Regions from separate parts of the Homo sapiens genome. Here all the other regions are reported to be linked to region 1. The links are microRNA targets in miRTarBase. Many come from high-throughput screens and were not tested one by one. Region 1 holds a microRNA gene; each other region holds the end of a gene's coding sequence.
Evidence for each region. The annotated mature microRNA hsa-miR-4312 reads GGCCUUGUUCCUGUCCCCA and lies in region 1 at 1,250-1,268, opposite strand. An mRNA with a match to its seed (bases 2 to 7 or 8) in the 3' UTR can be bound and repressed. Matches are read on the target gene's strand: a 7mer-m8 pairs with bases 2 to 8, a 7mer-A1 pairs with bases 2 to 7 and ends in A, and an 8mer does both.

Region 2: miRTarBase lists ATXN1L as a target of hsa-miR-4312. Seed matches in the 3' UTR shown: 7mer-A1 at 3,396-3,402 and 7mer-m8 at 2,901-2,907.
Region 3: the mRNA of EEIG2 is a reported target of hsa-miR-4312. Seed matches in the 3' UTR shown: 7mer-A1 at 1,075-1,081.

The regions. Positions count from the first base shown.
Region 1 is chr15:68,800,611-68,804,852 of GRCh38, forward strand. MIR4312 (microRNA 4312) reads right to left here and starts at 1,315; the gene lies at 1,240-1,315. All of the region lies in intron 1 of ANP32A (acidic nuclear phosphoprotein 32 family member A), which reads right to left. ANP32A-IT1 (ANP32A intronic transcript 1) reads right to left here. Exons shown (of 1, transcript NR_026808.1): 1 at 3,211-4,242.
Region 2 is chr16:71,851,117-71,855,358 of GRCh38, reverse strand. It overlaps ATXN1L (ataxin 1 like), which reads right to left. Exons shown (of 3, transcript NM_001137675.4): 3 at 1-4,242. The coding sequence ends at 3,549. Among named protein-coding and RNA genes, the nearest start is that of ATXN1L, 7.3 kb to the right of the region's middle. RefSeq lists enhancers at 1,921-2,060, 3,880-4,242.
Region 3 is chr1:108,634,134-108,638,375 of GRCh38, forward strand. It overlaps EEIG2 (EEIG family member 2), which reads left to right. Exons shown (of 11, transcript NM_001010883.3): 11 at 975-4,242. The coding sequence ends at 1,017. Among named protein-coding and RNA genes, the nearest start is that of HENMT1, 25 kb to the right of the region's middle.

The DNA.
Region 1 (4,242 bases):
GCGGGCACCTGTAGTCCCAGCTACTCCGGAGGCTGAGGCAGGAGAATGGCGTGAACCAGGGAGGCGGAGCTTGCAGTGAGCCGAGATCCCGCCACTGCGCTCCAGCCTGGGCGACACAGCGAGACTCCGTCTCAAAAAAAAAAAAAAGAAAGAAAAGAAAAGGACAGAAAAGCAATAGTGACAAGGGACACTACTTTAGAGAGGGTAACCAGGAAGGCCTATCCAAAGTGAGCTTTCAGCAGAGACGTAAGGCCAAGTCAACAACTAGGAGGGCCTTCCAGACAGAAAGAAGGAAAAGCCAGGGCAAAGATCCTGAGTGGGTGGCATGCTTGGCCTTATTGGGGAACAGCTAGGAAGCCAGGTGGGTACGAGAGAATTTGTGGAAGGGAAGAAAGGAGGTGGCAGCATGAGATTGGGGTGGAGAGAAGGCTGCTGTAGGTTACACACCTTTACCCACAGGGGACATTCCACATGCAACTGGTGGTAGGATAGTGGGTTTCACAGGCAATGCAAGAAGAATTGCTTAGACCACAGGAAAGTAGTTAAGACCTGAGATCTGGCCATAAGCCTAAGAGTTACCTTGCTCTGCCTTAAAGGAAGAAGAAGAAGAAAAAAAAAAAAAAAAGCAAAGGAAAAAAGTGAAGGAGAAGAAGCTTTAATCAGGATTGTGCTTGCCCCATGTTTCCAGGTAGAAATGGGCCTAATCTACACCCCGGACATCTCCTATGGGAGAATGTTTTGATTATGGGGGTTTGGACACATGAGAAGTAGTCGGAAGATCTGGTTTGGTTTCAGGCTTTACTGCTTACAAACTGTGTGGCTTTGGACAAGACTTCACTGAGATTCAGTTTCTTCACCTGTAAAATGGGACGAGTCCCTACCAATCCCACCTGTCTCCATGGGACCCAATGAGATCATGGGTAAGCCAGGCTGTCCTAGAGGTTACTATGATAAATTTTATAAGCATGTTTCTTACCCAAGACTTTGCACCCCAGAAAGCAGAGGTGAGGTATTATGCAACTGATTCCCCCACACTGCCTTGCACTTAGCTTTCAATAAATGTTTGCAGAACTGAAAAGCATTAAAAATAACCCGGAAAATGTTCTGCCATTTTTTTCCTTCCTATTAAACTGTAGCACTTTGCCAGAATGCTCCAGAACAGTCTCTCTTCACTGTAATCCTTCACTTTGGAGGAAGAACCAACTGAGTCACACCAGAGGTGTGTGCTCAGAGGATAAACTCTGAGGAATGGGGACAGGAACAAGGCCTGACTCCTCTGGGGAAGGCTCCTTGCTCTCTGTGCCCCCAACCTTTCTCAAACATCCTGAGAGGGCCAGGCCAGGCTACCAACGGAAGGGACTGCAGATTACCCTAGCACAAGGTCAGGATCTCCTGGAAAAGTCCATGAAAGCCTGAGAAATACAATATTCACAACATTCCACTTCAGACTAAGGAGTCTCAATCTGGTCCAACTGCCTCACCATACGGATAGGGAGGCTAACACACAGGTCAGTGGACTCGCTGGTTCAAGGTCACCTCTTTTTTTTTCTCCTTTTCAATTTTTTGACTAACACATTCATTCTCATGGTTTTAAAACCAAAATATATAAGATATACAGTTAACTCTCCCTCCTATCTTATCCTCTGTCTGCCCAGTCAACTATACCACCTGCTAAGCATCTCTCTAGAATGTTCACACACATACAAGCAAATTCAGAATCTTATTTCTTCTCTCTTTTATTAAAAACCTAGCATATTATACTAATCATTGCCTTGCCTTTTTTTCATGGAGTTTGTGTAAGAGTACATAAAAACCCTCTTCGTTTCTTCTTTGCAACTACATAGTGTGTCATCATTTTTCTTAACCAGTCTCTTATTGATGAGTATCTGGGTTGCTTCCAATCTTTTGTGTAATAAATAATTTTGCAATATCAATAAGCTTGGGCATGTCAGTTTGCATTCACCTAGCTTACGGATAAGAGCTGGAATCAGATCCCATTTCTGACCTACAGGGTGGCAGTCATACAGCCTCAGAGTCCTATTATCTTATTTATTTATTTGAGACGGAATTTTGTTCTTCTCGCCCAGGCTGGCGGGCAGTGACGCCATCTCGGCTCAGCGCAACTTCCACCTCCCAGGTTCAAGTGATTCTCCTGCCTCAGCCTCCCAAGTAGCTGGGATTACAGGTATGTGCCATCATGCCCGGCTAATTTTTTATATTTTTGGTAGAGACGGGGTTTCACCATGTTGGTCAGGCTGGTCTCGAACTCCTGACCTCAGGTGATCCACCCACCTTGGCCTCCCAAAGTGCTGGGATTACAGACGTGAGCCATTGTGCCCAGCCCAGAGTCCTACTATCTAATGTCTAAGTTACTTAACCTCCATTCATTCAATACACGCTCCTCAGAACTACTAAATCCCAGGCACTACACCAGGTGCTGAGGGTACAATGATAAAGGTGTCTTTGACTTCTGCTCCCAAAGTGTCCAGCCTGGAAGGGACAAACAGAAGGGAACATTCCGACACACAAGGGCCGCTCAGTGTGCCCCGGAAGCCATCTGACCTTTGTAGGCCAATCTCTGTCAGGAAATGGGTGGCCTTACCTACACCTCAGGGGTGTTTTAAAAGGTAAAAAAGATAATGCTTGCCAAGTACCTAGCAAGCAAGGACCACACAAAGCTCATGGCAGATACTCAATAAGGGGTAAGCCTCCTCTTGTCCCAGAATGGGTCTTAGTGATGGCAGCAGCAAGGTGTTCCAGGCAAAGGCACTGCATTGCCATGCCTGTTCCACAATGAGCAATTCTCTTTTCTTAGAGGAGTCTGGAATACACTGCTACTTATTTTTTAAAGCAGCACCTAAGCCCCTAATTATGTCTTAGCCTACTTTTATTGGAAAGCCATTTGCCTCTCTCCCACATTCCAGACCCTCTTCAATATCTCTGAGGCACCTGGGTATGCTTCTCACCTGCGTGCACAAGCCCTGGTGTTTGATGGAGTGTCAGAGCCACAGAGGAAACCCACACACATTTCTTAAGACCCTGGCACAGAAAGGCACAGGCAGGCACATGGAAAGTCGCTTTTACTAGGATACCCCTGAAAGTATTAAATAATAAATAGAAAAAAAATAGGACAAAAATCATTAAATCTCACACATATTGTTTGGTTTTATGTGCTCTATTTCACAAACTTTTTTTTTTTTTTTTTTTTTTGAGACGGAGTCTTGCTCTGTTGCCAGGCTGGAGTGCAGTGGCACAATCTCGGCTCACTACAACCTCCGCCTCCCAGGTTCAAGGGATTCTCCTGCCTCAGCCTCCTGAGTAGCTGGGATTACAGGCGTGCACCACCAAGCCCAGTTAATTTTTGTATTTTTAGTAGACATGGGGTTTCACTGTGTTGGCCAGGATGGTCTTGATCTCCTGACTTCATGATCCACCCACCTCGGCCTCCCAAAGTCCTGGGATTACAGGCATGAGCCACTGCGCCCGGCCCACAATAAAACATTTTTAAAAATCAGAACTTTTGGCATAATCTATTTCGCTTTCCCAGGAAAAGAAATGTAGCAGATTTTATAACAGAGAAGAGAAAGTAAAGTCAAGTCAAGAGTCTAAGGTATTTCCATATTATCATCAAAGTTGCCGGGAGAAGGTTGGGGGTCAAAGCTAAGATTCCAGGTTGGATGACCTGGTTTTGTATCCAAGCACAGCTCCTCAGTACTACCTGACCTTAGGTTGGTTACTTAACCTTTCTGAGCCTTGGTTCCCTCATTGGCAGAGTGAGCATAATTCCATTCATCCAGCAGCATTTCTGTATAGATTAAAGAATAAATATGGTGCCTGGCACATTGGCATGAACAAACAGTTAAAAACAAACAAAACACATTTTTAAAAAGATATTACTTTTTCTATTTAGTACAAAAATGAAAATCTAGTGTCTTCCCTTGTTTTCTGAGTCTCGCTCTGTGGCCAGGCTGGAGTGTAGTGGCACAATCTCGGTTCACTGCAACCTCTGATTCTCCTGCCTCAGCCTCCTGAGTAGCTGGGATTACAGGCGCCCACCACCACGCCCAATTAATTTTTGTATTTTTGTAGAGATGGGGTTTCACCATGTTGGCCAGGATGGTCTCGATCTCCTGGCCTCGTGATCCACCTGCCTCGACCTCCCAACGTGCTGAGATTGTAGGCGTGAGCCGCTGCACGCGGCTGTGTCTGCCTTTGAGAAGCTTCAAGAAAAACAGTGGGCAT
Region 2 (4,242 bases), not on the chromosome of region 1:
CACAAAGGAAAGAAGTTAATACAACAGAAGACACCACTAGTAGAAACCTGCTTGTTTCTCCCTCAAGATAGTCAGACATTTGGAGCCAGAGGGCTCCCAACAGCACTGAAGCCTTATCCCTTTGGATTTACCAGCCCACCAGCAGCATTTCATACCATCCCTATCGAACATGACTTCGCTATAAAATAACATGGCCTAACACAGGTAAGAATGAACCGGACGCCTACACTTAATCTACATGGCCAAAGACATGGAAGGATAGGGAGCTGTAGAGGACAGCAGGCAGGACAGTGAGCGGACAGCAGCAGTGGCAAAGCAGCGCAGGGCAAAGCCCTTGGTGTTATGACCAACTGGGACCAAGAATATAGAAGGACCAGCCCAGATTGGCTGGGGGCCCTCCCTCAGGTACAAGTACTCAGCTCTGAACTCCCAGAGCCCCTTCCCCCCATGCCACCTCTTCCTCATGTATACTAATCTTGATAGGAATGATTCAAGACTTGGCTTATTATCCATCCATGACTGGGTTCCCCTATTCCCAAATTGGTATACACATTTTTATACAGCGCCAGACAGTCAGCAGTCCTCCTTTCTATTCCTAAGAGCTGGAAATGTCCTACTGCTGACAAGGGACAGGCTCTGGCCCTTGTCAACTGCTCATTCTTAAAAAGTTGGCAACTTCCCACTAAAATACTCGCTAAAAACTGCTCTCATGTCTCCTGCAAACTCAGGAAATTCCTATAAGGAAGAATGGACACACCACAGGTTAGTCATATTTTTCATGCCTGGAGGAAAAGACTAAACTAGAGGTTAAAGGCAAGGGGGAGGCCACAGCTCTGACCGAGATTTAGAGCACAGAGATTCTTTTCCTGGGGACCATATTTTATGACAGATACCTTTGCAGCTCAGCAAAATCAAGTATTAATATGTTATATATGCATGGAACGATATTGTGGTATTACAGGAACTGCTGGTATTGCTTCACCAGCAAGAGACAGCAACAGAAAGGTCAGGGCCCAACTTGCCAGGGTCCTCAAGAATTTCTCTTTCCAGAATTCAGTGGAAGTTACCAGGTTGGAAAGTCACAAGTAGCCCAAGTGGAAGGTGATTTGATCTAAACTAATTGGTCTGTATCTGGTTAGACATAGGTTTGCCCCATAAGGAGAAAGCTCAGCTTGTGTCCTTGCAGACACTGCTTGAGCATCTACTGTGTACATGTCACTAAATTCAGTTGATGAGCCTTCCTATGAGGAAGGACGCTTGTGAGAAACCCATGCAAACAATGAACTCTAGGAATGAGTTGCTCATGAAACAGCCAGAGATGAGGCCTTCTCCCAAGGCCTTCTCATTTGAGGGGATTCCTCAAGACTCAACCCCACAGGCCCCCACTGTAGGAAACAAGCCAGAGAAAGCAGCATTCAGAGAATGGGGGACAGAGAAGGGGAAAGATATGATCCCAAATGCAGTACAAAGTTGGCGTCTGGTTCTGACACAAACCAGATACTGAAGCACTCACGGTCAGGTCAGCAACCTCCTTTGATGGACCCCCAAAAGCTGACTGACCAGGCAAACTGCTTTCAAGGAATGAAAGAGTGGAGGGTAGGGCTTGTAGCAAACAAGCCAGTTTCAGTCACTCTGTTCCCCCAGGAGAACAACCTTTAGCACCTGAACACTAAGAATGACTCCATTCTCAGAACTTCCCCTCCCCCCAGGAGGTAGGTAAGATTATTTATCCCCATTTGGCAGGTGGGGAGGAAGTGAAAGAGCCAGAGGTCACGAGACTTGCCGAAAGTCCTTGACAGAGCAGAGATCAGACCTCAGAGGTTTGGACTCCTGATGCCAGGCCAGGTCTCGGCCAATCCAAGTATACCTTATAAAGGACATGCCAGGATCATAGCCTGGGAGAAGTCTAACCAGAGAGCTGCGTGGACAATACCCTGAGTTGCCTTCAAGAGTCTAAAGACCCCCAAAAAACAAACAAAAAAACTTACCCACCTGAAAGCTAGTGGGGGAGCCTAATTCCCAATACCCAGTGGAACCCCACGGTCTGAGCTGATGCTAAAAGTTGTGAAGAAAATGTGGGATTAAGACATTGGTGGGGGGTAGGGGGGGTGCCAATGCAACCAAGATTGAAAATACTTTTTGCAGAGGAATATACCAACACAAAATGACATCTATTCAGGTACTGAAATGTTATCAAGACTATCCTAGAATCTTAGAGCTGGTGGTGGGAGGGGATGGCTTGGAGGCACCAGAATGCTGGGAGAAGCAGTGGAATAAGACAGGAGGGGCATATGGGACATGTGAAAATGCCATGATGGGCACTGCCCAGCCACGCATTCGCCCTGGCCCAGGGCATAGTTCCCTTCTTGTTTCTTCACCAAGCTGTTTGGCAGTGGAAGTGGAGGGGACATGATTTTGAGATTTTAAAAATAGAGATTATAGCTGAAGGGGAAACCAGAGAGACCCCCTACCCACCAAAAACTAGAGGTCTTGGTCAGAGTGGACAAAACCAACTTTGCAGACAAGGAAAGGCAGTGCAGCTACAAATGAGGCCCAGGTCACGACACCATGCAGCGGTCAGCGCAGCAGGAGGGTGGGGGTGGCGCAGGCACTTGGGCACAACACAGACAAAGGTGGGGGGTCAGTGCCTGGGAAAAAGGGTCTACTAGTTCTAAAGTCACCATTACCAGCAAGATTCTGTGAGATTTCAAAGTGGGTCTGGCATGCTGAGATGGAGGAGCTTTGTTAGGTGAGCTACCTTTCCAGAGGGCCTGCCTAGAACCCAGTCAGCCTGGCTATCAAGTCTTTCTCCCAAAGTCCCCTGACTGAGTCCCTGGCAAGGTAGTACTTCACTCTGAACCCTGAAGGGGCTCTCCCTCCGGGCCCCCGTGCTGCTAGAAGCCTTGTAGGCAGAATGGTGAGGAGAGATGGGGAAGGGCTATGAAGCAGAGGATCAAGCAGAGTCCTGCAGATGAGAGTGCTCCTCCCCCACACACCCAGCCATAGACATCTGGAACAAAATCACCCTTTAAAGTGCGCATCTCTCACAAGAAGGGTTCTGGGTGGGAACCCTCTTATTTCCAACCTTGGGGCCTCCTGCCCTTCTACCACAAAAAAGAAAAAAAACTTCTGACAGTTTAACTGCTACTATAAGCTGTGGATCATCATTTTTGGCTCTTTCTTTACTCCCTCCCTCTGCCATCTGCTCCCAAAGCCTGGACTTTCTCTTGCAGGAGCTAGGGATGGGGAGGAAAGAACAGGGAGGCCCTGATTTTGGAATGTTTCTTCTCCTGTGTGCACCCCCTTCCTTCCTTGCCCCAGGCCTGCTGCTCCCCATCACAACACCCTCTGGGGTTGTCCTGAAAGGATGCCATGGGGTAATGAACAACAGATCCTGCCTTGGGAGGCTGACTTCATGCCTCCCCTTTCCCCCAAATCTCACTGCCAAGAAAGCCATTCCCTGCTCGGCGTGTGCAAATCCTCTGCCTGCTCACGGCGGCGAGGCGAGGCTCTGGGGTAAAGCCCCAGTCCTGGTCTGGGGAAGAGGTTCATTTTCCCGCATTGGAACGCCCTTCAATGGACAGCTTTACCTCCTGTGGAATGAAAGAGGGACGGAGCAGCGCAGCCCGTGCCTCCTCCCCTTGCATGCTGTATCTTTGGAAGCTCGGGGCTGGCCAGCAGGCCTGAGCACCGGACTCAGGCTGGGAAGGCTCTACCACACGGGAGCCCTCTCCTGCCGGCTGGCTCTTCCCCTCACTGTCACATAGCTCTCTGGATCCCAAGACCGTCCTCTCAGGCCTTTCTCGGGGGGGACCCAGCTGGCTTGGGGGAGCACAGCTGGCCTGAGAAACTGAGTTACTGTTCAAGCTCTGTAAACTGATAGAGATGCAGACATCTCCCACCTGTAGCCGATGGCAGGGCAGAGAGAAGAGTTGTGTCGTCCGCCCAGGGCTGCAAGAGGACCAACCCTGGCCATATACAAAGAAGGGGTGCTCGGGGGGCACTTCGATGCTCACTTTGCTCTGCTGCTCACCAACCACAAAATGCAGCATGACAAATCCAGGCCATTGGCTCTCCTGAATGTCCACGACCGTGCTAGAGTCAATCTTCAGCCCCCCGCTCACTTCGGCACTGCGCACAAAATCCTGGGTCTGGAGGTCCTCCACCCGCTTCAGCTCTCCCGTAGCCAGCTGGATGATGGCGCCTTTCATGAAATGGGAAGGCAAGTGAGAGGAGGTAATG
Region 3 (4,242 bases), not on the chromosome of region 1:
TCATCATGGCCAGAGGCAGAACATATTTAAAAGGGCATCTAAAAGCCAGTGTGCCATGCTGCCCACCATGGTTTCTTCAAATTCTGATTTTCTGTAGGATGAATGGGTGCTCACTGGCATTCTGTTGAGGAAGTTCCTATTTCTTCTGTAGAATGAATCTGTGAGAACAGGAGTTTCTGGGCAATCAACTGAGAAGTCCAGCCAAGTCCATGGTGGGCTAGTAATCACTACCTTACTTCTGTTGTTTAGAATTTCCTCTTAAAATGCCATTAAGGAGAGACACTAGTCATGGTGGTTGCTTCTGGGCTTACTAAACTCAGGCACACTCATGGTAAAATGACAAGTAGTAGGGTATACCCTAACATCTTGACAAATTGGGAAATGGGTACCTGGTGATAACTTCAGGCAGTAATGGGCCAGGCGTGGTGGCTCATGCCTGTAATCCAGCACTTTGGAAGGCTGAGTTAGGAGGATTGCTTGAGCCCAGGAGTTCTGGTTGCAGTGAGCTTCAGTCATGCCACTGCACTTCCATCTGGGCAACAGAATGAGACCCTGCCATGAAAACGCCACAATATTATGACAGCTGAAGACCATCATCATTAACTCAGTGCAAGTCCTGATGCACTGCCAGAGTCAACATATGCTCTTGGATGAGACCTATTTTAGAATGAATAGATAAACATGTTTGAAGAGCATTTCTTGCCACCATTTGTCGATAGGTCAAGAATTGGGGAATTCTAATAGATTATTGTGGGAATAAGTGTGAGAGAATCAGGATCTAGGCTAATCCAATGTATTAATGATAAACATTTAATATTTCACATAGTTTCTATCCGTGATGCCTTTAAACGTTATGGAAATCAAATCTAGTAGAAAAATACCCAGTGCCCCATCTCTCCAGGGGTAAGGTTACTTGGAACAGTTTCAAACACTGCAGCTCAAAATTTTGAAGTTTTTTTCCACTGCTGTTTTAGGGTGGGGTCTGGAGCTTATGAACAAGTTGTGATCAAACGCTAGAAGTCAAGTCGGTGAAAACATTTCCTTGTGGATTTAAGATGTGAGTAGTTGATGTATCAAGGCATTTTATTCAAGCACTTAATAGAAAATGAACCTCAACTATCAAGAGGAAAGCCAATGCTGGTTTCTTCTCTGGAAGGACCCACCGCCATCCTGTACCAGCCACCAAAGGGGAACATCTACATGGCAGTCTCCAGGCACTGTGCCACTGTGTGCCTTGGAAGCACCTGGCTTCTGTGGTCACTGCACATCATAATGAAAAGCCTGCTTTTTCTTTCAGAACACCCCAGCGGAGAAAACAGCATTATATACATCGGAGTATCATTTTAGGATTCAAGTGTAAAAATCTGTGATCAAGAGGCTCAATAGATTTGGGCTCTATGGTTTGGTTTTTTTAGTTTGAGAGACAGTACATGAATATAACTTAAACCCTATAGATTTTGTCAAGATAGTTGTAATTCCTGTTCTGGAAATCTTCCCTATTACACTACCTACAGCATTGTATAAAGTGTGGGTGTTCATGCTTTGGGAAAATGTTAGACTACAATTTAAACATGTGATGTGCTTATTCATAATTCTCAGTGTATCAGTCATAAATGAAATAACAAGTGCATTTAAGTCAGAGATACGTGAATGGATGTAATGCCGTTATGCAGTATATATTGTTAATTGTCATTAATATTAGATGAGCTGCAGAACCACCCCCAAGCACTACATAAAAGACTCAAAATAAGTTTAACACTTACTGTGTTGGGCACCCTAACAGAAGAGCTATCTTAACTCATTGAATATTAAGATCTGCTGGTTTCAGGAGTCAAAATGTAGAAAAAGAGGAGAATTGTAATATGGTCAGAAACAGAGAAGCCTTTTCTATGTAAATTCAGACTTATCTGAGGCTAACAGTTTTCCGAAGTGGTGGTGGGTAGCAGCATGACAGCTGCTTGCCATGACTGATGCAGACTACTAGGTTTCCATTTTAGCTCTCTGTAGGTACTGTTTTCTTCCCCACTGTGTCGAAAGTGATTTGTTTTGAAGCAAGAGTAGAATATAACATCTATCAAATATAGCTTTTAAAATAAGAATACCTGGTCTGGATCCAGTTGAGCAGCACAGCAGATAAACCTTAGAGTTTTTCTGTTCTTACATGACGGTTTCCATGTGGAAAGATCTAAACTTTCTTGGAATCACTATTAGTGAAGAAAAATGTAGAATCTGTATAACCAGTAATTCCCCAATTCTTACTTTCAAAGTCATATCCAAGAAAGACAATATGTCAGAATAGAATGACTTTGGTCTAGGTGTTTTCACGTTGGCAAAAATAAGGAGGAAATTATATTATTTTAATATCCAAATTTAAAGGTTTGGAAAATTTTGAATAGTTAATATTAGAACTTATGTTGCTGTTTTTTATATTTCAAGGATTGAGTATTCTGCATTAATCCAATACTATTCCAACAAAGAGATTCTGGAAGTTTTTAAAAAATGATACCCTGTTTTATATTTTGAATGTAGAGAGACTCTGAGAGAGAGAATGTTCTGAGTTATACTTTTTATTTTTTAAGATTTATTTTTAAGAATAAAACATTGACCTGAACATTTTAGCCTAACCAAGGGACTTAAGTGGTAAAGACTTGCATTATGTCTTCATGTGAACTGATCCGTTCATTATATATTATGGGAAAAATCAAAGAAAGTTTTTTATAGAGATATGAAGATATTATTTAGAGAGATATTTATTATGACATTTTTTAAAAACATATTTTTCTATTTTCAAAATATTATTTCTAGGCTATATTTTTATTGGTGCTGTGCAAATGATTTTGCAGTTTTGAAAATGATAAAACTAGATTGTAAGTGGGGTTCAGTGAGGACATTCATCAGACACGTAAGAGGTGCTGCAATCAGGGTGATGCCCATCTTACTCATCCTTGGCTGCCCTTGGTCCGACACCTCTCTATACAAGACTGGTTCTCAGTATTTTAAATGGTACAGAATTCTTTTTAAAAAGTAGAGAGATTTTGAAAAGCATAAAAATCATGCCTTTATAATCTTAGCAGCCATCAGATACACCTTGATTTATGTAGTAGTAAATATAACAAATATTTTAATAAATAGAAACACTGATAAGGAAGAAAAAAGAACTAATGTCTATGTCTTCTGTAGTCAGCAAAAGTCTGGATCCATTTTCTATTTTGTGTTCCATTGGCACACTTTGTGTTCAAATTTCAGTGCAGTCCTTTCAAAATACTCGCTAAGGGTTGCCTAAGTGTCTGCCTTACTTTCTGATTGTCCTTTTCTGAGAGCATGGTTAAGAACATCTTAACCATATAGCTGTTGAAAAAATCTGTTTATTAAATAACAAGTTCACTTCTGTTTATGTTTTGAGTTTAGAAAATTTGACTTGAAAATTTAGATTATTAATAAATTTATTTTTAAATATTAAAGTCAAATTTCAAATCACCCAGTGTTGAAGAATTTGCAGATGTATACAATACTTTTTCTAATTATGTCTTTTCTATCTCCATGCCTGGCTTTTTCTAATTATATCCTAGAGAAAAAGACTAATGGTATTTCAAAGCTGTGTATTTGTGACGAGATAAAGAAGAGTCTTAAACATCTTGTTTGGGAGAATGCACAGGCCAGTCAGGAGACCCACCTCCTCCTGTGCCCTGAGCTGCTGAGACCCGACAGATCATGAAGGCTAGTAAAGGGCAGAGAAGGCCCTGAGCCATCAGTTTACACTCGAATTGTTGACTCCCCTTTGTGGTGTTTTTGAAGGCTGCTTATACCAACAGCTAATGTGGATTAGTGCTTATGATCTTGAAAAAGTCTTGACCAAGAATCCTAAACTCCACCACTCCTCCCATTCCAGCTTAACACTATCAGAATAATATCCAAATTCCAGATTTTTTTCTTTTTTACTTTTTTTTCTTCCTTTTTTAAGAGAGACAGTGTCTTGCTCGGTCACCTAGGCTGGAGTGTAGTGGCGCAATCGTTGCTCACTACAGCCTCCCAACTCCCAGGCTCAAATGAGCCTCCCACCTTGGCCTCCCAAAGTGCTAGGACCACAGGCATGAGCCACTGTGCCCAGCCTAGTTTCTTTTCTGTATGCTTTTTTTACAAAACTGTGAGCCACAGAGGTTGACCACTTAGCCAATTTGTTGCTAGAAGGGAGAAAAAAATCTCCAACTAGCCTCCAGACAAAACATACTCAAATTCAAACAG